Regions from separate parts of the Homo sapiens genome. Here regions 2 and 3 are each linked to region 1. Evidence: fine-mapped expression QTL. A gene starts in region 1. Each other region holds a variant in brackets. All regions are shown on one strand. Distances are from middle to middle. Region 1 holds the start of AKAP13 (A-kinase anchoring protein 13). Region 2 overlaps AKAP13 (A-kinase anchoring protein 13). Region 3 overlaps AKAP13 (A-kinase anchoring protein 13).

What was found. PIP is the estimated chance that this variant, and not a neighbour inherited with it, causes the effect.
Region 2: its variant is fine-mapped to the expression of AKAP13 in lung (TOPMed, PIP 0.95).
Region 3: its variant is fine-mapped to the expression of AKAP13 in whole blood (GTEx, PIP above 0.99).

The regions. Positions count from the first base shown.
Region 1 is chr15:85,375,970-85,384,155 of GRCh38, forward strand. AKAP13 (A-kinase anchoring protein 13) reads left to right here and starts at 4,634. Exons shown (of 37, transcript NM_007200.5): 1 at 4,634-4,829. It overlaps MIR7706 (microRNA 7706), which reads left to right and starts at 4,627; the gene lies at 4,627-4,693. It overlaps LOC124903546 (a long non-coding RNA gene), which reads right to left. Exons shown (of 3, transcript XR_007064747.1): 2 at 8,094-8,141; 3 at 7,707-7,766. RefSeq lists silencers at 4,485-4,564, 4,945-5,514, 5,171-5,338.
Region 2 is chr15:85,569,039-85,577,224 of GRCh38, forward strand. It overlaps AKAP13 (A-kinase anchoring protein 13), which reads left to right. Exons shown (of 37, transcript NM_007200.5): 6 at 6,093-6,291. Among named protein-coding and RNA genes, the nearest start is that of LINC02883, 190 kb to the right of the region's middle. The variant T/C (reference allele first, on the strand shown) is at 3,875.
Region 3 is chr15:85,532,893-85,541,078 of GRCh38, forward strand. AKAP13 (A-kinase anchoring protein 13) reads left to right here. Exons shown (of 37, transcript NM_007200.5): 4 at 692-988. Among named protein-coding and RNA genes, the nearest start is that of AKAP13, 160 kb to the left of the region's middle. RefSeq lists an enhancer at 1,138-1,217. The variant TGTACTG/T (reference allele first, on the strand shown) is at 3,290.

The sequences.
Region 1 (8,186 bases):
CAGTTTCTTATGTGTGTTGTATTTCTGATACCGCCGTGTCTTTGAATTTGCTCTTCCCTTTTCTAGAAAGGTCATTCTATTATCTGTGCACACACACCCTAGTCTCCTGCACTACCCCACTGTTCTTTATCTGCCTGATTGTCTTCCAAGACCCAGCTTATCTGTCTCATCCTCTTGGATGTCTTTCCTAAACTTTCATCCTTTAACTAGGAGAAATACTCCTCTCTGTTCCCCATAACACCCTCCATTGGCCTCTTTAAAGGCACCTACACATTTGATTTCTTCCTGGTTTGCCTGCCTTCAATTGACTGTGAGTTTCTTAAAGACAGTAACCTCTTCTTCACCTATAACCCCAGGACCATGACTAATGCCTGGAACACAGTAAACTCTCAATAGACATTTGTCAGGGAATTGGCCAGGGATCATCAGCTCATGGGTGGTGTGGCAATTAGAACTCTTCTGGATGCAAGTGACAGAAACCTCCACTGTGCCAGGCTTTATTGGCCTACAGGATTGAAAAGTCTACATTGCCGGATTCAGCAGTTCAACTAGTGTCACTAAGACACTGTTTTTCTTCATCTCTGTTTACTTCCCGTTGTTCCAGTTCCATTCTAAAGGTTCTTTCTTTGTGGTGACAAGATGGCTGACAGGTATATCCTTCCAGATTCCATTTAAGGGAGACAAATATTCCAGTCAAACAAGACCCTAGTTCCAGCAGAGTAGTCTGGAAGTAGTCACCGTTGCCCGTGGATAGGATACATCAGGAGAGTCAGGTCTGGATTCCACGCTGAGGCCATGGAATTGGGGCTGTGGTAGAGCTGGCTTCACACCAAGCAAGGAGCTGAGAGTGGAAGCTCTCAAAGCATGATCAGGACACTATTTCTATCACAAATGCAATACAATGTCCACTGCTGTGAAGGAACACTGGGATATACTTGTTCCAGTGCTTCTATTATCAAAGTGGACAGGTTAGACAGTGTGAGCTTCAAGAGAAATTTATGCTCTTTTAACTGTGTTAATTTTGTTTTTTCTTTGCTTTGGCATTGCCAGGAACTCTCTGTAAAATGGGATTTATTCTTGTTATATTTTTAGGTATTATATAGAACCTGTGTAAATCAGTTGGGAAGATATATAAGTCAATGGAGAGATAGTTCAGAGATACAAAACCCCACCACTGTTTAGTAAGGCATCTTTCCTGGCTTGCGAACTTACTGAGAGTACATGAGGAAATGATTAAACCTGCAACCTCTTTCTGTGAAATATGGCATACTATGTAGAAATATTTGGTACACCTTGGAAGAACAAGTCTTTAGTATCAGGGACACTCAGTTTGAAGGCTCCTTGTAATAGCTTCTTCTGTACAAGTTCACTAATGTGAAATTCATTGAGTCCATACTGTGAACCAGACACTATTAGAGGGGCAGGAGAGAGGGGGTAAACACAGCATACTTCAAGGAGCTTACATTATAGTGGGAGGAGCCAATAAACACACAAGATAAATAAGGTACTTTCAGATTGAGATAAATGCTATGGAAAAAACTGAGTAATACGCAAGAGAGGGACTAGATTAGAGTGGGTCAATTTAGGGAGGGTGGCCAAGGAAGGTTTCTCTGAGGAGGATCATTTGAGCTGAGGCCTGAATGATGAGACGACATCAGCCATGCAGATAACAATTTAGGAATTCCCAAGGAGGACAGAGGGCTCAACCGTTTGGGGAATTTAGGGTAGACTCCTGCCTTCAAAGTTGGGTTTCAGGCTGGGCATGGTGGTTCATGCCTGTAATCCCAGCACTTTGGGAGGCCGAGGCGGGCAGATCGCCTAAGGTCAGGAGTTCAAGGCCAGCCTGGCCAATATGGTGACACTCTGTCTCTACCAAAAATACAAAAACTAGCTGGGTGTGGTGGTGTGAACCTGTAATCCTAGCTACTTGGGGGGCTGAGGCAGGATAATCGCTTGAACCGGGGAGGCGGAGGTTTCAGTGAGCCGAGATCATGACACTGCATTCCAGCCTGGACAATAGAGTGAGACTCTGTCTTAAAAAAAAAAAAAAAAAAAAAAGTCGGGTTTCAAAATAGCTACGTCAGTAGCACCTGGGAGCTTTTTAGAAATGCGGAATCCCAGATGCCACCCCAGACTTACTGAATCAGAATCCACATTTAACAAACACTCCCAGGTGATTTGTAAGCACAGTAAATTCAAGAAGTGCTAGACTCTTAACTTTTCCTGCAGCCCACTGGAAAGGTGTAAATCCTGCTGAGGCGGGGAGCAGGGAACGGTGTTGTCAGTGTCCGTAGAAAGATGACATGGTAACATTTACTGCTGCCTCTGAAACAAACAAGCTAGGTTCTAAGGGGGAAGTTCACTGGGTTATCAAATGTTAGGGTCCAAGTGATTTTCTTGGTTAGCACTCTTGCTTCACAGAAGACTCAGGTTCTTTGAGAAGTGACCGGCTCATGATAGGCTGCTTCTCTCTCTGTGCCAGCCTTTTTTTTTTTTTTTTTGAGATAGGGTCTGGCTCTGTCACCCAGGCTGGGGTACAGTGGCATGATTTGGCTCACTGCAACCTCTGCCTCCTGGGCTCAAGCAATCCTTCCACCTGAGCCTCCCAAGTAGCTAAGATTTGGGCTACCATGCTTGGCTAATTTTTGTATTTGTTAGTACAGATGGCGTTTCAATTGATGCCCAGGCTGGTCTCGAACTCCTGGGCTCGAGCAATCTGCCCTCCTCAGCCTCCCAAAGTGCTGGGATTACAGGTGTGAGCCACCGCGCCAGGCCTTGTGCCAGTTTTTAAAAATCAACAAGGACAGATTAGAGAACAGTGGAAGAGGGTGAGCAGCATGATGAAGTGATACAGAAATAATTTCACATGAAGAACTGGGCATGTTTGGCCTTTCTTTTCTTTTCTTTTTTTTTTTTTAAAGCCATTCGGTGAGGGTTACTTAAGAAAATAGGGCCGGGTGCGGTGGCTCATGCCTGTAATCCCGGCAATTTGGGAGGCCGAGGTGGGTGGAGCACCTGAGGTCAGGAGTTTGAGACCAGCCTGGCCAACATGGTGAAACACTGTCTCTACTAAAAATAAAAAAATTAGCCGGGTGTGGTGGTGGGTACCTGTAATCCCAGCTACTTGGGAGGCTGAGGCAGGAGAATCGCTTGAACCCTGGAGGTGGAGGTTACAGTGAGCTGAGATTGCACCATTGCACTCCAGCCTGGGCAACAAGAGTGAAACTCTGCCTCAAAAAAAAAAAAAAAAAAAAAAAGAAAAAAGAAAAAAAGAGAAAATATATGTGAGCACCAGAGCTCAACATTAGGAGCATTTCTGAGATTTGGAGCTATTCAACAATGGAAGTTCCTGGCACACACATCAGGTATTCACAATACCCTTTCTCAGGTGTTTGGTCACTGCTAGTGAGCCGCCTGGATCAGTGTTTCCCAAATGGCAGTCATTTGCATCTTTGCTTTTCTTTTGGGGGCGGGGGGGTAATATCCTGTACCAGATTTTTGAAAACTGACATTAAAAATACATGTTTAAAATGTGCAAAGTGCACTAAAGTGCACTGGATGTATTTTTTATTCATGTATATACTTTTGTTATCTATCACCCAGGTCAAAATACAGAACCAGCACCCCAGAGGGTTCCCTCCTCCTCCTTCCCAGCCAATAATCTTCTCCTCCTACCTAACCGCTGTTCTTACTTCAATCACTATCAACTAGTTTTACACGTTCTTCAACTGCATATAAATTGTCTCAGTTTTTTACTTAACACTTTTCTTGAAGTGCTTTCGTTTTTTGCCACTTTTTATTTGACCTAAGAAATAACATTAATGAAACAGTGGTTTGACGTGATAGGCATTTCCCTCCTAATGCGCACTAAAAACACTTAACTATTTGAAAAAAGAAGTTTCTTCGTGTACCAACTAATATATTCTCCGCCCTGTCTCCAGAAACCGCCCTTCCTCTGTGGGCCGGTGGTTACCGGCACCATTGGTACACGGACCACATTTTGTTTCCCAAAGCAACCAGATGATTTTTGAGGTCCTTTGCAGCTCGAACACGGAATGACTTTGTGGTGATCGAGTAGCCAGAAGTTCACGGAATGCACTGTCACAATTGTGATTCCGCCATAGCGCCGTGCATCCATCCAACACTTGTTTAATACCTATATTTAATACCTAATACCTTAGACGGTCCTAGGCTGTGGACACAGAAGACTAAACCCCACTTCCTGAGTTGAAGTGGGGGAAATAGAGGAGTAAATCATTTCACGATGTGTGGTTAAGTGCTGCAGCTCAGGTAACCACCAGTACACAGAGGAAGGGCGGTTTCTGGAGACAGGGCGGAGAGGAGACCGTGGGTGGGCATTTCCCAGAGCAGCCTCTGCCAGCCACCCTACTTTGATCACTTTGCCGCCGAGCAGCAGCGGCGGTCAACCTCAGCCTCCCTTAGCAACCTGAGTGCCCCGTCCAGGAGCCTTACTATTGGTCTCATGCAGCGAGATGGGCAGTTCTGCCGTGCAATCCCAGCTCGCAGTTCTTGCTCCGCGTGTACTCACGGGAGGACTCGCAGGCGTTACCGCCTTCCCGCGTGCCCCGCCCACCCTCCCGAGCGTCTTTCGGCGCATGCGCGGACTGGAGCTGTGTGCAGGGCCAGCGCGGAGCCCGAGCAGCCGCGGTGAAGCGCCTGTGCTCTGCCGAGACTGCCGTGCCCATTGCTCGCCTCGGTCGCCGCCGCTTTAGCCGCCTCCGGGGGAGCGGCCGCCTATTGTCTTTCTCCGCGGCGAAGGTGAAGAGTTGTCCCAGCTCGGCCCGCGGGGGAGCCCCGGGAGCCGCACGGTGAGAGCGCAACTTAGTTGGCGGAGTTGGGGGAAGTTTTGTGATTTGTGGGTCGGGGCGCGGAGCGCGGCCAGTCCCCTGCGGTTGCTCGGTGGGGCGGGCCCCGGAGGAGGGGCGGGGGCTGCGGGGGTTTCGGGGGCGGGCTGGACAGACGGGTCGCCGGGCGGCGCCGGGACCTCAGGTCTGCGGACCCCTCCTCCCTGCGCATCGCCCTTCTCCCGCATTGTCTGCTTGGGGCTCGGCGCGCCTCCCACTCCGCAGCCCAACTTAGAGGCCGTCGCCGCTTTCCGGGTGGGGGGCGCGCCCGGCCGCCGATGCTACCTCAGGCGCTCCGCCCCCAGCGAGGCCCCGAATCCTTGCCCCGGGTCCCCGGGTCGGCGCCGCCGGGGCGGGCTCACTCCTCCCCTGGGGCGGGCGGCCGCGGTGTGGAGTCCCCGCCGTGGAGTCCGCGCCGTGAACAAGTGCTGCGGGCGCGAGGGAGCGGCTCCCCGGGGTCGACGCGGACGGTAAACACGTCGGGCCGCGCCTGCCTGTCGGTGCCTCTCCGCGGCTTCTCGGGGGTGCGGCCCAGCTGACCCGCGCGGGTCGCAGGCGAGCGGCCCAGGAGACCCGTGCGGTCCCCACGCGCTCTGGGACCCGTGCAGCCAGCCGGCTCAGCTTGCAGCTATACTTTGATACCAAACAAAACTTTTTTTTTTTTTTTTGGTAAATACGGTTTACTGCTTTTTTTTTTTTTTTTTTTTTGCAAAGCCACGAAGTATGTGAAGTTGAAAAAAGGAAAAACCCTAAAACTTTTTAAAAAAAAATCAAGAAAGGGGGTAGATAGGTTTGTTTTGTTTTGGAAATAGTTCTTATAGCAGAGTGATACCGTCCCATTTAATTTTCTAGATCCCGGAATTCACAATGAAAATTGGATTGAGCGGTATTTTGGTGTTCATTCTTTGCTAATGACACTCCTTAATGAAGTTATTTGGAGAGTTTATTGCTTCAGTACAGTAAAAACCAGTGTGCCTTTTTTTTTGTTAGTAGTCCCCCCCACAACAAGTGTTTTATTTTTAGAAGAAGCATTTTCTTCAGTTTTTCTGAACTGTTGGATTGCGCAGATGAGGACAAACGGTGCAGTTCTTGAAAGGTCATTATTGGCAAGTTTGTGAAGAAGCTAAGATCAGTTGAGATAAATCATTGTTACTATTCTTGTATTCTGTCGTGGACTCTTGGGGATTTGCAGGCTGCATTAAGTACAAGTTTTGTCAAGTTTGGGTGCACATATTACACTTAATTTGGTTTGTGTGGCTTATTATATGAACATGATTCTGTTTCAGTTCCCCAGATGGAACTAGCTTAAATGTCTGTCATTCATAGTGGAGCAAAATGGCCAGAGTGTCATTTATTGTTAACTTCAGTTGTATTCCTTTACCATCTGCTAAATGAAAAAGAAAAATTTGAGAAATACTGTGTGTGTCAGTTTGCTCAGAGTGATTTCTCGTGCTAAGTGAGTCCTGTGGAGAAGCGTTCCTGGGCTTTTCTGGTTTGGTGGGCCTTGTGTTATAAAACCAATTTTCTTCACCTGATGAAGCTAAAGACAAATTTTCTTCAGGTACAGCCATTGCACTTTTAAATTACAGAGCCGCTTTTAGGATTCACAGTACTCGCTCCATGGCTTCCCTTCCTGGTTGTGTGGTTTTGTGTGTGTGATTGTGGGGAAGGAGGTTGACAGAGGTTGGAAGGGATTGTCAGGGAGGGACATAATGTAAGCAAGTACTACTTACAACATGACGTGACGAGTGCACTAGTTGCTTTCCTTCTCTGGGCGGTGATGGCATGTTATACTGTAGGTACTATTGTTTTAGGATTTCTCACACTTCTTTTGCCTTGACTAAATGGTAACTGCACACATACTATACTATAAATGGACTCCTCCTCTAGTCCTTTAACTCCTTGAGGGCTGTGATAGACCTTATTTAGCTTTTTACCCTCTTTGCCGGTAGTCTTAACATAGTGCAGGCACGGTACGTGTTTGAATTGGGTAAATTATTTTTACTGCCTAGTGGTAGCTAGCGTACACAGGAGAGAGCCACTAACTGGGGACCTGTCCAGAATGACAGTTCACTTGCAGATCTGTGATGACATTTACTTTAAAAGGATTTCTAACCTTTTTTTAATCTGTCAATTATTTTTTGAAAAGAAGTGGGTTTAACTAGCGCTCTAAGGATTTCAACAAGAGGTTCCAATTTAGAAATCAGCCCCCCCCTTTTTGTGAAATTATTATTGTTTTTTTTTAGAGTCGGAATCTTCACTGTTGCCCAGTTGTCTCTAACTCCTGGACCCAAGCCATCCTCCCACCTCAGCCTCCCACAGTGTTGGAATTACAGACGTGAGCCACTCCACCCAGCCAGTGAAATTATTAAAATTGTTGGACAAATCTAGTCACAACTCTCCCTCCATTGTGAAATTGGAAAAAAATTAGAAATTTTAGAAAAAAGTACACCCTTTGGAACTAGGTAGCGTTCAGATCTCCACACTTCCATTGACTAGTTGCATAGCCTCTCAGAGCTTCAGTTTCCTACTCCATAAGCGTTAGTAACAGTGTTCTTAGGAATCAGTGAAACTATGTGAGGTACTTAACTACAGTATCTAACATGGAGTAGGCAGCTATTACCTAGTAGCTGTAATGATAATAATTTTGGTACATTTTTACATGACTTAAGCATTCTTAAAAGTCTGATGCTTCTGAGTGTAGAGGTTTAGCTATTTCTTTCATAAAGAAGGGGCCTTGAGACTTGTGAGTCTTATCGAAGTCTATTTCTTCAAAGGTGCCAGATGAACTGAAGGATAATGGAAACAATAGCGAGTTTATCTTCTCAGTCACCTGTGAGTCTTCCTTTGAGAGTGGGACTTGCAGAGTGGCTTGGTAGGGTAGAGCTCTTTGTGACTATGCTATTTGGGCAACAGTGAGAGATGGATTGTTTTCAGTACATCAGTCATAAGAGGATATGAGTTCCAACTTTATTTTACCTTAGTCTTGGCAAATAAGTGTGGATTGTGTCTGTATTTCTCAAACTTGTTTAAGGTAGAGCTGGACTGGGTGTTAACAGTGTTAGTTCAGTACAGAGACATGAGCAAATCACTCACTTCCTCTTCAAGATAACACTTTAAAGGTGACACCATTTACAGAAGAAGGCAGTGATTTAAATCAGTTATACTAGCATAGTTTAGAATACTTACACTACCTAGATGGAGTAGATACATTCTAGAAATATTTACCTGTTAAGGACATTTCTTTAGATTTTATTCCATCTTTCCATTAGTTTTCTGATGAAGAGATTATAGTAAACCTTTAAAAATTATATTTGATCA
Region 2 (8,186 bases), 190 kb after region 1:
AGAATGTTCTGAGCAAGGGAAGTGGTATTGCTAGGGATAACAGTGGTTTCATAAATGGAAATAGGTTTGGCATTGCTGCTGCTTTTGATTATGGAGTAACATAAAATTGAGGTTTGAAATTTGAAGGTGCCCATTAGACACCCTGGTAAAGACATTCATAAAGTAGTTGGAAGTGTTGGTGCAGAACTAAGAGAGACTTTGAGTCAAGAGAAAGAGATTGTGGGGGTGAATTGGGGCTGTGGGAAAGGATAGATGAAAGAAGAGGACTGAATGCAGAGAATTGATGTGTTCACCTCTAGGAGATGAGGAAGAGGAGCCAGGGAAAACAGTAGATGTATAGGATGGATTTTTGTGGATGGCAAATAAGAATACATTTTAAAAGAAGAATCAGATCAACATATTTTTTTCTTTTCTTTTTTTTTTTTTTTTTTGAGACAGAGTTTCACTCTTGTTGCCTAGGCTGCAGTGCAATGCATCGATCTCGGCTCACTGCAACCTCTGCCTCCCGGGTTCAGGCGATTCTCCTGCCTTAGCCTCCCGAGTTGCTGGGATTACAGGTGCACGCCACTACACCCGGCTAATTTTTGTATTTTTGGTAGAGAGGGGGTTTCGCCATGTTGGCCAGGCTGGCCTTGAACTCCTGACCTCAGGTGATCCAAAGTGCTGGGATTACAACTGTGAGCCACCATGCCCAGCCAGATCAACATTTTTAAATTCTGCAAAACTCAGGGTTGACAGGGATAAAGAAAGGCCACTGGGCCGGGTGTGGTGGCTCACTCGTGTAATCCCAGCACATTGGGAGGCCAAGGCAGGTGGATCACAAGGTCAGGAGATCAAGACCATCCTGGCTAACATGGTGAAACCCCGTTGCTACTAAAAATACCAAAAATTAGCCGGGCATGGTGGCGGGCGCCTGTAGTCCCAGCTACTTGGGAGGCTGAGGCAGGAGAATGGCGTGAACCTGGGAGGCGGAGCTTGCGGTGAGCCGAGATTGTGCCACTGCACTCCAGCTGGGCGACAGAGCGAGACTCCGTCTCAAAAAAAAAAAAAAAAAAAACCACTGGATTTTGATATTTACTTATCACTGGATACCTGTGACAAAGCTTTGGTAGCATTCAGAGTGAGTAGGAGGCCGGGTGTGGTGGCTGACGCCTGTAATCCCAGCACTTTGGGAGGTAGAGAAGGATGGATCACCTGAGTTCAGGAGTTCAAGACCAGCCTGGCCAACATGGCAAAACCCCATCTCTACTAAAAATAGAAAAATTAGCCAAGTGTGGTGGCACACGCCCTGTAATCCCTGCTACTTGGGAGGCGGAGGCAGGAGAATCTCTTGAACCTGGGAGGCAGAGGTTGCAGTTAGCCGAGATCGCGCCACTGCTCTCCAGCCTGGGTGACAGAACGAGACTCTGTCTCAAAAAACAAAAACCAAAGTGAGTAGGAGCCAGACCACAAAGCCTTAAAATGTTGAAATGGCTGGAAAGGAGGTAGAGATGGTGAGACTCCCTGAAGGAAAGAGGAAGAGGAAGACAGAACATGTTTCAGTGCGTTCAGCAGGATTTCTCGATGCCAGCACTACCGAGTTTGGGCCTGATAATTCTTTGTTGTAGGGAGCAGTCCTGTGCTTTGTAGGATCCCCTCCTACTCCTGAGTTGTGACAACCAAAGATGCCTCCAGTTATTGTCAAATGTCCCCTGGGGGCCATATTCCTTGGGTGAGAACTGATCGACAGGGTTGAATAAGGATTCCTACCGCTGGAGTGGGGAAGGAGCTAGTCCAGAAGTGGGTGGAAAACCACAGGCAGCCAGGGGATGATTTACTGAAGCAGGGACCCAAGGAGGGCAGGAAGAAACAGAGCAAAACCTCGGTCTAGAAGAGGTATCCTGAAGTTGGAGAGGGTGGGGAAATGCATTGTTGTTGTTGTTTTTTTTTTTTGTAATGACAGTTGTTTTGGCTTACATTAGATGGCCTCAAGCTTATCACTGAGAAAGGAGAAAAGGTCTTTTGAGAATGAAGTAGGCAAGGTTAATGTTTGGCATTAGAGGAAATTATATAAACTTTAATCCCAGTGGGGGAAGATTAGTGTACAGGTGAGTAAAAGGATTACTGAGCAGCAATGAGGCCTGGCTGAATGGAACTTTTGAAGCAATTATTAAAAAGATTGGTAAAATGTATATCTCAACCACGCTGATACTTTTTATATTTGTGCGTTTTACAGACTAGACTTATGTACTTTTTTTTTACTTTTTATTTTGCTTATTTCACAGGACTTTGTAGATTTCAATGTTATTGAACTTTTATTTCAGTTATTTTTAATGGCTACATAATAGTCTATAGATCTGTTCTTTAATTTACCAATCAGCGCTTCAGTTACTAACTGGTTAGATTGCTTCCAGTTTTTAATGAAGTTGTGCCAAAAGTTGCAGTAAACATTCTTATGCATAGAGTTTTGCGAGATTTTACTAGTGGACCCAGTAAAGGTTTTATACGGTGGTAACACAGAGCAGGAAATGTATTTTCTGAAATGTCACATTAATGAGGCCACCCTTGATCCACCACATTTAAAATTGCAACCTTCATTCCTGCTTTAATCTCTGTAGCACTTGCTATCTTCTAGGTGTTTTACTTATTTATCTTGATTGCTGTTGTCTCCCTTGTTCGACAGAACAGGGATTTTGGTTTGCTTCACCAGTACCTTAAATAGTGCCTGGCACATACATACTTGCTGAATGAATGGATGATGGGACTTACCCAGACCTGTAGGCGAAATGAGTTTGGAAGAGTGTCAGTAGCAACAGATATTCATGGAAGCCAGTGGGAAGATACTTGCAATGACTGATCTTTAGTATCTAGAGGGACAAGGAAGCAACAAAAGTCCCCAGGGACATGAATTGGGAGATTGAAGGGTTAGTACCTGGAGGTAATTGTGACAACAAAAGCACATTCCTCTGGAAGGTGAGAGTGGGAGAGGTAGAAGGTAAGTAGGCTGTGGTTAGAGAAAGGGATTTCCCAAGGTTTAGATATTAGAAATGGAACAGTTTGAGAATTAAATTCTCAAATTTAATTTTGAGAAGGTTGGTAGAATACTCCATTTCATGGAGAATGGACTGTATCACTTTTTAATTGCTCCTGCCTTGGCAAACAGTGTCCTCTAATCTTGTTATATTTGGGTCATGCTCAGTGGTGGTATATAAAGCAGGTTTTGTTTTCAGAGATCTTTTTTGTTGGAATATGGCTGTATGTGATAATCTGATTAAGCAGATATGCCACTAATGTCTGCCACACAATAAGGCATGTTAGTGACTATGTCAATGTAGGCTTGAAAGCTACATTGATAGAGAAGTTGTCTCCCCGCTATTTGACTTCTTGAGTCGTTTCTTTGAACTGTCGAGAGTATTTTACAAGTGCTTTTCTGTTTGAGGTCATTTCACTCAGAGTATAGCAACTTAGTAAAATATGTAAAACATGTAGTATAGCATATGCCATTCTTATTTTAAGCTGCTTTTGGGGAGCCACTCTTGGGTATGGAAGTTGTAATAGTAGTTTTTGGAGTACACTTTATTATTATTACCGTCAGCCAGTACATGATTTTCCATTGCCTTATACGTTTTCCACTGTAGCATTAAAAAAAAAATTTTTTTTTTATTATTACACTGTAAGTTCTGGGATGCATGTGTAGAACGTGCAGGTTTATTACATAGGTATACACGTGCCGTGGAGGTTTGCTGCACCCATCAACCCATCATCTACGTTAGGTATTTCTGCTAATGCTCTCCCTCCCCTAGCCCCCAACCACCTGACCGACCCCGGTGTGTGATGTTCCCCTTCCTGTGTCCATGTGTTCTTATTGTTCAACTCCCACTTATGAGTGAAAACA[T/C]GTGGTGTTTGGTTTTCTGTTCCTGTGTTAGTTTGCTGAGAACGATGGTTTCTAGCTTCATCCATTTCTCTACAAAGGACATGAACTCATCCTTTTTTATGGCTGCTACTGTAGCATATTTTTAGCTTTAAAATTCCAATTAGTCTCAGGTGAATTGTTAATGACAGACAGGTGTGACTTAGTAGAAAAAACTGGAGAGACAGTTGAAGTAATCTTTCTCATATTTTTCAGTGGCTAGATAGCATGTCTGTAATTTCTTAACTCTTTAGTTTCTTCTATTTCAAAACATGATAATGATCTCAAATATAACCTTCCTCCCAAAATCTCAGGGATACTTTACCAATCTATTGTTTGCTTTGGTGGGATTATAATAACTGTGATATAGGTTGGGAGGCCAAGGTGGGTGGATCACCTGAGGTCAGGAGTTCGAGATCAGCCTGGCCAATGTGGCAAAACCCCTGTCTCTACTAAAAATACAAAAAAATTAGCTGGGCGTGGTGGGACGCGCCTGTAATCACAGCTACTCAGGAGGCTGAGGCAGGAGAATCGATGAACCTGGGAGTTAGAGGTTGCATTGAGCCAAGATCGCACCACCGCACTCCAGCCTTGGCGACAGAGCGGGACTCTGTCTCAAAAATAAATAAATAAATAAATAAATAAATATGATATGATATGGGATATTCAAAGGTGTTAATGTTGTAAGGAAAGGAAAAATAACATTTCATATAAGGAGGAAAGGGTTGATGGAAAGCATAATCTATTATTGTGCCTGATCTTTGAGCTGCTAGGCACCTTATCAGAATGCTGTTTGAGGAGTGTTTTCATTATGTTTAAAGCTTTCAGAGAAAGTAGGATTTTCTGATACAAGTAGAAAAATAGAAAAAAGTAGATATGTTTTTCTACTTTTAAGAAGGGAAGGCTTACTAGGAATTATTTTTAAATGAATGAAAGAGTAGAAGGAGGAAGAATAGGCAGTATCCGTGTGTGATTTCTCTGTGTCAAACACCATAGATGTAGTTTTTTATGCACATTTTCTCTAATTCTCAAAACAGTGCTTAGATTATAATATCTGTGTTTGCATATTATGAAATTAAGGCTCAGAAAAGTTAAGAAATTTGTCTAGCATCATATAGTTAGGAGATAAAATTTTGTACCCAGAAATCTCTAACTCTGTATACCACACTGTGTATCAAACTAATGAGAAAGAATAGTGACACCAACGGTTAGGACTTCAGACATTTACATTTGTGCTGAATGTAGAAGAGGGTGCTTAACACTTGAAATGCGTGCTCAAGTACAATAGTTAATAATATGAGATTGTGTGGGGTATGATTGTGTGCCTCATCCCTGTTTATTGTATGCCCCAAGATTCTTTCATCTGCTGCAAAAAAGCACAGTGCAGATTATGTGTGGTATCACAGCAGGCATTACGGGCATGGGTATGCCTTCTGGATGCAAGGGTGGAATTGGAGGTGCTGTAGCCTTTAGAGGAGAAACCCACTTGCCTTGTTCAAATCAGTTGGCGTATAATGGTGGAAAGTTGTTATATTTGTTTATAATGATATGAGTTGAGCAAACTTGCTTGTTTTTTAAATTTTACGAATTTTAACTTTAAGTTCTTGGAACCAAGTGCTTTATTCCAAATAGGATATGATAATTATATTGACAAGTGTTGAACAATATGTCATTGTAACAGTTTTTCTTTGTGTAATTGACTTCAATAATCTTGAGGGTGTTTTCTGCACCTATTGTTAGAAAAGTTGGAGTGCCCTTGTAAGGGTTGGAGTGAGTGGTTCTTCTCTTGCCATTATAATTGACTGTAGTTAGCATATGGTCTAATTTATTTTAAGAGCACCTCTTAATAAGCCTTGATTTTGTTGAAAATCAGGCTAAAACCATCTTCCTTGCACTTCCTCATTACTTGGTTGTTAGCATAATATTAACTATTATTAGATCCCACATATCTCTTTATCTTGATCTAAAGAACATTGTTAGGGCTAGGAGTCCTGCAGTTTTCATTTAACCCATTTGTGATCTCTTGTGAGGAGGATGGAGCTATTGGTTATATGCCTGAATCATTTGGGAGGTATATATACTAATTTTTGCTGTTGAACCTCAAAGAACAATCAGGTTAGAAATACGAAGTAAGACTTAGAACGTTAAGCCTATGCCTGGGAGGCAGAATGTATATATATTAACCAGAGATGCTTGCATGTAGGGAGAATGCTGGAGAACCAGACTCCTGGAGCAGTTTATCCTATGAAATACCGTATGGAGACTGTTCTGTGAGGCATCATCGAGAGTTGGACATCTATACATTAACCTCTGAGTCTGATTCACATCATGAACACCCATTTCCTGGAGACGGTTGCACTGGACCAATTTTTAAACTTATGAACATCCAACAGCAACTAATGGTAAGTCAGAAAGCTTTTATTTTTAAGTATATGCATGTGTATGTGTGTGTTTTGTATGTGTGTGTCCCCGCCCTCCTCCAATGAACCTTGATATAATTAGAACATAAAAATGCTTTCCTGGTGGGAGGCTGAGACGGGCGGATCACGAGGTCAGGAGATGGAGACCATCCTGGCTAACACGGTGAAACCCTGTCTCTACTAAAAATACAAAAAATTGGCCGGCCTGGTGGCGGGCGCCTGTAGTCCCAGCTACTCGGAAGGCTGAGGCAGGAGAATGGCGTGAACCCAGGAGGCGGAGCTTGCAGTGAGCCGAGATCACGCCATTGCACTCTAGCCTGGGCAACAGAGCGAGACTCCGTCTCAAAAAAAAAAAAACTTTCCTGGCCAGGCACAGTGGCTCATGCCTGTAATCCCAGCACTTTGGAAGGGCCAACACAGGTGGATCACTTGAGCTCAGGAGTTTGAGACCAGCCTGGGCAACATGGAGAAACTCTGGCTCTACAGAAGTTAGCTGGGCATGGTGGCGTACGCCTATAGTCCCAGCTACTTGGGGGTCTGAGGCAGGCAGATCATGTGAGCCTGGGAGGCAGAGGTTGCAGTGAGCTGAGATGACACCACTGCACTCCTGCCGGGGTGACAGAGCAAGACCTTGTCTCAAAAACAGAAAAAGAAGGACTTTCCCCAAAGATTCTGAGACCTGTAAAGCAGTATTAGCAGTATTAAATGTTACCACTTACAGATCAGAGCTAGCATTAAGGTTGTAGCCGTAGGGGGACTGAGAGGTTTTTTTCATTGGTTTTGGGAATAATGGAAGACACACATTTCAGGTACAGAAATATGCAACAACTAGAACTAAATTTCTGGCATAAAAGGATATTTGTCTGTGTTTGGCTTAACTTTACAAAATGAAAGAACCAACAGTTTCTGAGATTGTTGCCAAAGAACAAGAACCAAATTTAATCAGGAGTATTTTTACAACTATTTTAGTGGCGATGATATGTACCATTTAAATATAGTGTTACTATATTTAAATCAATAGTTGTATGGTACAAAGATAGCTAAAAAAAACAGAAAAGATTTTATAATCCACTCAAGTCTTCAAGATAAAGTTGTTGCCAGACATAAAAACATTACAGACTCCCTGTTAGCATTTATTACGAATAACATAAACGTCATATGTGTACATCTCTCTTGGGCATAACATCTGAAAGGCTGTGTTTAGGTAATTTTTCCACCCAGTTTATTTCAGAGCTGATTTGATTTGGAAACCACTGGACAGTAATTTCATTTAAGGTCAGCTCAATGCCAGAGGCTTCTTTGGGAGCATGCATTATTTGAGACCAGCAAGCCAAGAAATTCCATAGGGTTATGTGATGCTCCCACTTTTGTGTTTTAGAATTGTGTTTGTTCCAGAGCACGTGACATTTCATTTTCCTCTGAATGGACTTCTAGGCAATCAGGTTTTTCCTTAGAGCTCTTTTTACTAGGTGAATGGTAGTTCACTTGAAAATATAGTTTTGCAGGTACCAAAGCTACCTGCCAAGATATGGAAATGGTTGGCAGGCAAATACGAGAAATTAAAACTGTGGGAACATACATGTGCTACTTTCTTTAGGCAACACTACTTGTTTCGCCAGATTTCTGTTTTATAATGTTTACCATTTATTAAATTTAATGACTTCATTTCCTGATTTTTAGGAGACTGTCGTACTCTCAGCAGGACTGGAAATAAGCTAATTTTGAATACTCTTAAGGAGCCTAACACAGAAGCTTTTAGTGAAAGTCCATTTTGCTTGTACACTCTACTAGAAAGACTTTAACAAGCATGACACATTTTACACTTGTACATATAAACTTTTACAATAGGCTCAGTAGGTAGATAGGAATGGTCTGAT
Region 3 (8,186 bases), 160 kb after region 1:
GGCTCCCAGCCACAGCATTGCATTATCCTCATGCAAACCAGGTAATTTCATTGAAGTCCTCATTACATTAGTGGTTGAGATGGGAAATAATGTGTATCTGAGAACAAAAATCATTACTTATTTTTTAGGCCTTGGATTGCTCATAGTAGTAAAATAAAATCAAGTAATTATGTACTTTTCCAAGTGCTTCATCATGTGAGCCTTTGTATCGTGATAATAAAGCAAGTGCTAGTGAATCTGTAAAATTCTTGCTATATAACTTGTATGAGTGATATTTTTTCCTGTTATGTTTTCAGATCTAATTTAGTTCAGTAGCTATTGGACTTTCCATCATATGCTATGCCTTGAAGGTCCTTCAGCTTTCATTCTTAAATATGTTCAAATTGAATAGCCCTTGTTGACATTCAGAGCCTGTTCGGTTCCAGATACCATGTTATAGGCATGGTGAAAGCTGGGATACAAAGTTTTTTGTTTTTTGTTAAGGGAATTCATATTTGCAAATAATGTTAAAAGCTGAAAATGGAGTTTTAAGAAGTTTGGAAAAATGCTGTCAGAGCTCAAGAGGAAGGAGGGGGTGTTTTTTAGGAGGAGAAATTTGTATGTCGTGAAATAAGAGCTAAGAGGATCCACTAGCGTCCTTTCAGCAGTGAGGCTCTAATACTGTTTTATTTGCTGCCTGTGTTTCCTTTAGGTCATGATTGTTGTGAAACAGTGAAGGTGCAGCTCTGTGCTTCCAAAGAGGGCCTTCCCGTGTTTGTGGTGGCTGAAGAAGACTTTCATTTCGTCCAGGATGAAGCGTATGATGCAGCTCAATTCCTAGCAACCAGTGCTGGAAATCAGCAGGCTTTGAACTTTACCCGTTTTCTTGACCAGTCAGGACCCCCATCTGGGGATGTGAATTCCCTTGATAAGAAGTTGGTGCTGGCATTCAGGCACCTGAAGCTGCCCACGGAGTGGAATGTATTGGGGACAGATCAGAGTTTGCATGGTGAGAATTTATATGATCTACAAACACACTTTAAGTTTGTGATATTTCTACTTTTTTTTTAATGGGGCTACTTTTCTATGGTCATCATATTCAGGTCTTCCACAGAGGCTGCGTAAATCTTAGAATTACTGTAGGAAAGTGGCCTCAATGGCATCTCTTCTAGGTTCTTCAATTGAGCTGTTAAGCATGTTGTTGCAGCGAAATGACCCTAGGGATTACCCAAGGAGAGTGGCACGTCACCTTCCTGTGGGTCTGGATTTCAGATTTGATCTCTCAAGTGTAGAAAGTGACATGCTCTTCATGAGGAGAGTAGCAGAGTTACTTTTTGGTGTTTAATGATCAAAGACATGGTTTTCATTATTGTATTCTGAAGTTCTCTAAAGATAGCCTGGAAGTGAAGGAGAGGAAAGATTGGGCAGTGAGTGGGAGGAGCATGAGAACAGGGTGTGCTCTGAGAAACCACACACTTCCTTAACCAGGTTAGTGTCACTCTTACTGACTTTATCTGTTGGCCCTCCCTATGAGAGTTCACTGAAGAAAGGACTTTTTGTTTGTTTTTTGTTTTTTTTTGAGAACGGGCTTTCACTCTTGTAGTCCAGGCTGGAGTGCAGTGGCATGATCTCGGCTCACTGCAGCCTCCACCTCCTGGGTTCAGGTGATTCTGCTGCCTCAGCCTCCCAAATAGCTGGGATTACAGGCATGTACCACCATGCCTAGCAAATTTTTTTTTTTTTTTAATTAGAGACAGGGTTTCACCGTGTTAGTCAGGCTGGTCTCGAACTCCTGACCTCAGGTAATCTACCCACCTCGGCCTCCCAAAGTGCTGGGATTATAGGCATGAGCCACTGCGCCCGGCCAGAACTCCACTTTTTCAAAAATATTTACATAGTAAGTCCTCTTACTCAAACAAGGGTTTTCCCACATAATTCTAGTAGCCAATGACATCTACTTGATGTCATAATTGTATAGATATTTTTTAATGAAACATAATGTGTACCTGGAGTTCAATAAGTAACATCCAGTTTCCCTTCTGAGTTCAAGTCCAATTGAACGATTTGGGAGTCCTGAGATAGAAACCAAAATGTTTATTACTGATGAAATCTAGATTGGAAGCCTGATGTTAGAGCTCCTGCCAGAAGGGTCTGCTTGTACTTTCTATGTCTTCAATGAAAGAGCTGGTCAGTCACACCATTGCCCTGTAGAGTCCACCCAGCCTTGAGTATTGAATTATTTTGGGTAAGCAGACCACAAGTCACTCTCCCCACAGGTGAGCAGTTCCTGAGGAGAAATACCCAGAGGGGCCTGAGCCATAGCATAGTTAGTTTCTACACTCAGATGAATTTTGTCTTCTTCCATGGAAGAATGGTAAAGAGGTCTTTGCCAGCTTTGATTCTCTTAAATCTACACTAAATTTAACAGTTAAACCTGTGGTCAGCCGTCAGAACGGTGTCCCATACTGTCAGGTGCATACTGTCAGATTCTACCTGGATAGTCCTGCCCAGGTAAAACCTGAAAGGAAGTATCAAATCAAGGAAGAAAGGATTTATCCTTTTCTTCTTCTTTTTTTAAGTATAGTGTCCAAGAAACTTCTGTCTTGCTAATATTTAGAGATCAGAATATTTGACATTCTGAAAAGGCACTCATGCCTTATATAAACCTGGTGATGGGCCTTAATACCTCTAGCTCCTCCTATTTCTGTATTGATACAGGAATGTTTATTCTGGCTGCCTTTCACAAATCAGTGTCAAGATAGTACTGCATTAGTTATTTGTGGGGCTTATGGTGTTTTATGGTTTTGTTTTGTCTTGTTTAAAGAGGGGCCCAGGAGTTGGATAGTTTTATGTTGCCATGATTAAAAACAACTATTAGAAAAAGCAAACATCTGAAACTTTGGACATATCACTTCCTCTTTCTCTCTCTTTTTTTTTTTTTTTTTTGAGATAGAGTCTTGCTCTGTCGCCCAGGCTGGAGTGCAATGGTGCAATCTCGGCTCACTGCAACCTCCATCTCCTGGGTTGAAGCGATTCTCCTGCCTTAGCCTCCCAAGTAGCTGGGAATACAGGCACATGCCACCACACCCTGCTGCTTTTTTGTGTGTTTTAGTAGAGACGGGGTTTCACCATGTTGCCCAGGCTGGTCTTGAACTCCTGAGCTCAGGCAATCCACCCGCCTCAGCCTCCCAAAGTGCTAGGATTACAGGCGTGAGCCACTGTGCCCGGCCACTTCCTCTCTTTGGGCCTTAACTTCCTTGTCTTTAATAGGAGGGAATTGGCCAGCTTTAATTTTTTTTTGTACTGTCAG[TGTACTG/T]GTAAATTTTCTGTTGCACAAAATTGCTCAAGCAGTGCTAACAAAGGCCAAACCAAATTTGAACACTTGAGGAAGGAAATACATATTAAAACCACAATGAGATATCATTACACATTTATCATAATGGCTAAGATGAAGAATACCAAGTGCTGGCAAAGATGAAGAACATATCATATGTTGCTTGTAGGAATGCAAAATGTATAACCACTCTAGAAATATTTGGCAGTTTCTTGTAAAGTTAAACATACACTTAGCGTATGACCCAGTAATCCCACTTTTGGGTGTTTATCCTAGAGAAATGAAAATCTGTAGTCACCAAAAAGTCTGTGCACGGACGTGCTCATAGTAATGTTATTCATAATCTTCAAAAACTGGAAATAACCCAGATTTCCCTCACTGAGTGAATACAGAAGCAAACTATAATATATCCATACAGTGGAATACTACTCAGCAATAAAAAGAAGCAAACTGTTGACATGTGCAACAACTTGGATGTGTTTTAAATGCATTATGCGGGAAAATGAAGTCAGTTTCCAAAGGTTCCATACTATGTGATTCTATTTATATGATATTCTGGAAGATGCAAAATTATAGAAAAAGAGAACAGATGAGTAGTTGCTAGGGGCTGGGAGTGGGGGAAGTCTGACTGGAAAGAGGTATCATGAGGGAATTCTTTGGGTTGTTGGAGTTGTTTTGTCTTGTTCGTGGTGGTGGCTGTAAGAATCTATGCATGTGTTAAAACTCATAGGAGTGTACATCCCCTAAAGGTGAATTTTATTGTACATATATTTAAAATAATAAAATAACAAAAGAAATTGTGTAAGTTGTATACTTTGCAAGGTGAAATGCATGCAAGTGACTTGATAGAAGTGTCTTTAAGTCAACAACTGGGATGAGGAATCTGATTTTCTGTGCTCAGTTCACATTCTGCAGTTTAAATTGTTCTATTAATTGATGATTAGAATCTGGGAACACTGGGTACAGTAAGGGAGAGAAGCATCAGTTAAGAGTTCATCACGCCTGCTGTTGAGGGACAAATGTAATGGAATAGTCTGTTCACATCAATGAGTTGCACATAAATACTTTTAAATAGGTATTTAAAGGAGAAAGGTACAAAGTAACCATGATGCCTGAGGTAATACAGGTAAATAAGGCACCTTGTTACATAACAGGACTTCTTGCTGTTGAAAGCTAGGATGTTTAGAGATATTCTAGCCTAATACTTAGACAAAGTAGTTTATGTAAGATTTATGGCTAATCCTCCTACTGTTTTAATTGTTTAGTTGCAGTGCTTTTTAGCTTTCTTCAGGTCAGTGACTCCTTTGGAAATTGCTCAGATTTCTCCTCAGAAAAAAATGTTTATAGGTGCCTATGTGCACACATTTACATATGATAAATTTCTTAAGTCTCCCTGAACTTCAGGCATGAGCATAAAGTTAAGAATTCTGGGTTTAACTTTGCTCTTACAAAGTGGGAAAAGCAGGGGCATTGGAGTCAGTTTGTTTGCATCCTGGCTTCATTGCAAGAGTTTGTGCAAAATACTCAATCTCTCTGTTACTTAATTTCCTCATCTGTGAAATGGGGGAAAGTGTATTCTGATAATGTGTGCTAGTTTATAAGCTATTCATTTTGAATGTACCATTTGGAGACACAAAACATTGATGTTTTACTTGTTACAAAAATTAATCTTCACTTTAAATATGAACAGGAGGGAGTTTGTCCTTTTAAATCTTCCAAATGTTCTCTCATCCCTAATTATATAAACAAGCTTCTACACATTGTACTGTTTGCCACAGTTCTGCCTTAAATGCAGGTGATAAGGATTCATCTGGGTGTGGCGTGAATGGTGGGGTAAGGACATTTTTTTCTCTGAGTTTTCCAAGTCTCACTTAGTTTCTCAGCTCGGTGGTTAGTGAAAATGGTAAGCTAGGGGGGTGTTTTCCCTGAGAGACCCTTGTGCAGTAGCCGTCAGCATAACTCCCAGGTAATGTAGGGTGGGCCCACTGCAGACTTGCTCTAGAGGAAGCAGGGAGAAACATCCTGGGGGAATCTTCATTCTTATTTACTCATGATATTGTATAACCAAGTGAAAAAGAGATCTGATCATCTTTGGGGGCAAGAATTCTCCCCTCAAAGAGAAATTTGGGTGGAGAGGTGGAAGACAGGTTTAGGAAAAACTGCAGTAAGAACAGCCTGTGTATTCCCAATTCTATACATCTGATATTGGTTAATAGGTCGCCCACCATAATCATTTGATGATTCAGTTCCCACCTCCTTTCAGAGTGTTTGATAGCTTTTCTTTCTTTTTTTTTTTTTTTTTGAGACGGAGTCTCGCTCTGTCGCCCAGGCTGGAGTGCAGTGGTGTGATCTCAGCTCACTGCAAGCTCCGCCTCCCAGGTTCATGCCATTCTCCTGCCTCAGCCTCCCGAGTAGCCGGGACTACAGACGCCCGCCACCACGCCCAGCTAATTTTTTATATTTTTAGTAGAGACGGGGTTTCACTGTGTTAGCCAGGATGGTCTCGATCTCCTGACCTCGTGATCCTCCCGCCTCGGCCTCCCAAAGTGCTGGGATTACAGGCTTGAGCCACCGCGCCCGGCCTTGATAGCTTTTCATAAATATTTTTTCGTAGCTACATTAGTGTTTGTGTATTTTTTTTTTTTGAGGGAGTCTTGCTCTGTCCCCCAGGCTAGAGTGCAGTGGTGCGATCTCAGCTCACTGCAAGCTCTGCCTCCCAGGTTCACACCATTCTCCTGCCTCAGCCTCTTGAGTAGCTGGGACTACAGGTGCCCGCCACCACGCCAGGCTAATTTTTTGTATTTTTTGGTAGAGACGGGGTTTCACCATGTTAGCCAGGATGGTCTCGATCTCCTGATCTCATGATCCTCCCGCCTCGGCCTCCCAAAGTGCTGGGTTACAGGCATGAGCCACTGTGCCTGGCCTGTGTTTGTGTATTTTTTCAGCTGTCATCACTGCTGAAAAGAAAATAACAACATATTTTAAAACTGCTAGTGGTTTTTTTTTCCCCTTGGCAGAAGATTAATATTTATTGATCCCAAGACTAGTAGTGGTAGGACTTGAGCTCCAAAAGGTTTTGTTGCCTCTGAAACCTTGTTTTTGTTACAAGGTTACAGGTCTCATTTTTCCACAACTGCATTTTCTCACAGTGGCCTGTTCTCCTTCCTTTCACATGCAGCTGAGAATTCCTGCATCATGTGGGACTTTAGGTTTTTTAAGAGGTAGTCCAGAATAGTACAAAGAATGGTGATTTTGGAATCATAGGTATAGATTCAAAGAGTACTGTAAGCTGGGCTTGCTGGGGGGATTGATGGGGTAGGAGAGTAGTCCTTGATTATTGTACTGATCTCAGAACTTAGAACATTTTACTTAGAGAATCTGACCATTTATAAAAGATACAACCCTCTAGCAGGCTCATCATGCTTGAATGCCTACTAGGCACATCAACTTTTTTGCAGATCTGAGGGAAGGTGTGTGACAGGTGTGTCCAGCATATAAGTAAATAGAAAGCAGGATGTGAGACATTTTCTGCCTTCCTTCTCTGTGGGTAGAGGCTAAGCCTACAGAGATCTTTCCAATTAAGTATGGTTAAACAGGATAACCAGCCAACATGGGGTCTATGGAATAACATTACAGCATAAAGAAAAGGGAAAAGTATCATAAGTATTCAGATGGAAGATTTTCTGAGTATGCTTTCTGTAAGAAACAAAAAAATGTAGATGATATTTCCCATTTGCCCTTTAAAGAGCTCAATAAAATCAGGTTTATTATGAAATTAGAGAAGGAGACAGCAAGGAGAAAAGTAGGTTTTATGAGTCAGTGTTCAAGTAGAGAAGCAGAACCACTAAGAGAAATAATATGTTGAGATTTATTACAAGGAATGGCGCCTTTGATTGTGAGGGCTAATAAGTCCAAAATTTGTAGGGCAGGAGGGGGAGGGAAGATCATGGGCAAAAGTCAGTCCACCAACATGGGCCAAAATATCACGTGAGGAAGGGAAGATCGTGGGCAGGATGGAGCTCCACAGGCACAGGCTAGTGCTGTCCTCCACAGGTGGAATGGAATCCCTTCTCTCCAGGGGAAATCTAAGACCTGCTTTCAGAGCCTTCCAGTTGATGCAGTGGGATTATCCTGCCCACATAATCCAGGATAACCTCCCTTATTAGATCAACTGGTTAGGGGCTTTAATTACATCTGCGGCAAAGCTATTATTATGACGACAAGGATGGAAGGGGAGTGAGTTGGCAAAAATGATGCAGCCATCCACAATCCTAAAGCACAGTTAATTCACACTGGGGACAAAGGACTCAGTTGACACTGTAGGAAAGGCCATTAGTGATCTAAAAAAATGAAGTTGAGTAACTCAGATTACAGAGGAGTACTGATGCAGAGAAAAGGGAACAGAGATTGATCCTAAATGATTGAGCTCTGCAGTTTAAACACAAAAGGAAGAAAGCAGTGATGGAAGCTTTCATGCTCTTAAAACAACACAGACTAAAGGAAACTAAATTCATATATTCGTTTATCCCTTTGCACCTTGGCCTCTTCTACAAACCTAATTCACATGACCCCTGAATCAAATAAAAATGTGTGAGAAATTAATGGGAGAATACCTAAAACTGGGGGTATATGCATGCGGTGGACTACTCAGCAGTAAAAGAGAATGTACTACTGCTACATGCAGCAATGTAGATGAATCTCAAACATGCTCATCGAAGAAGCCTTACACAAGAGTGTATATTCTATAATTTCATCTATATGGAGTTGTAGAACAGGCAAAACTAATGTAGGTGAAAAATTCAGAACAATGGTTAACTCTGAATGAGGAGGAGAGGATTAACTGGAAAGTGGCACAAAAGAACTTTTTTGGATA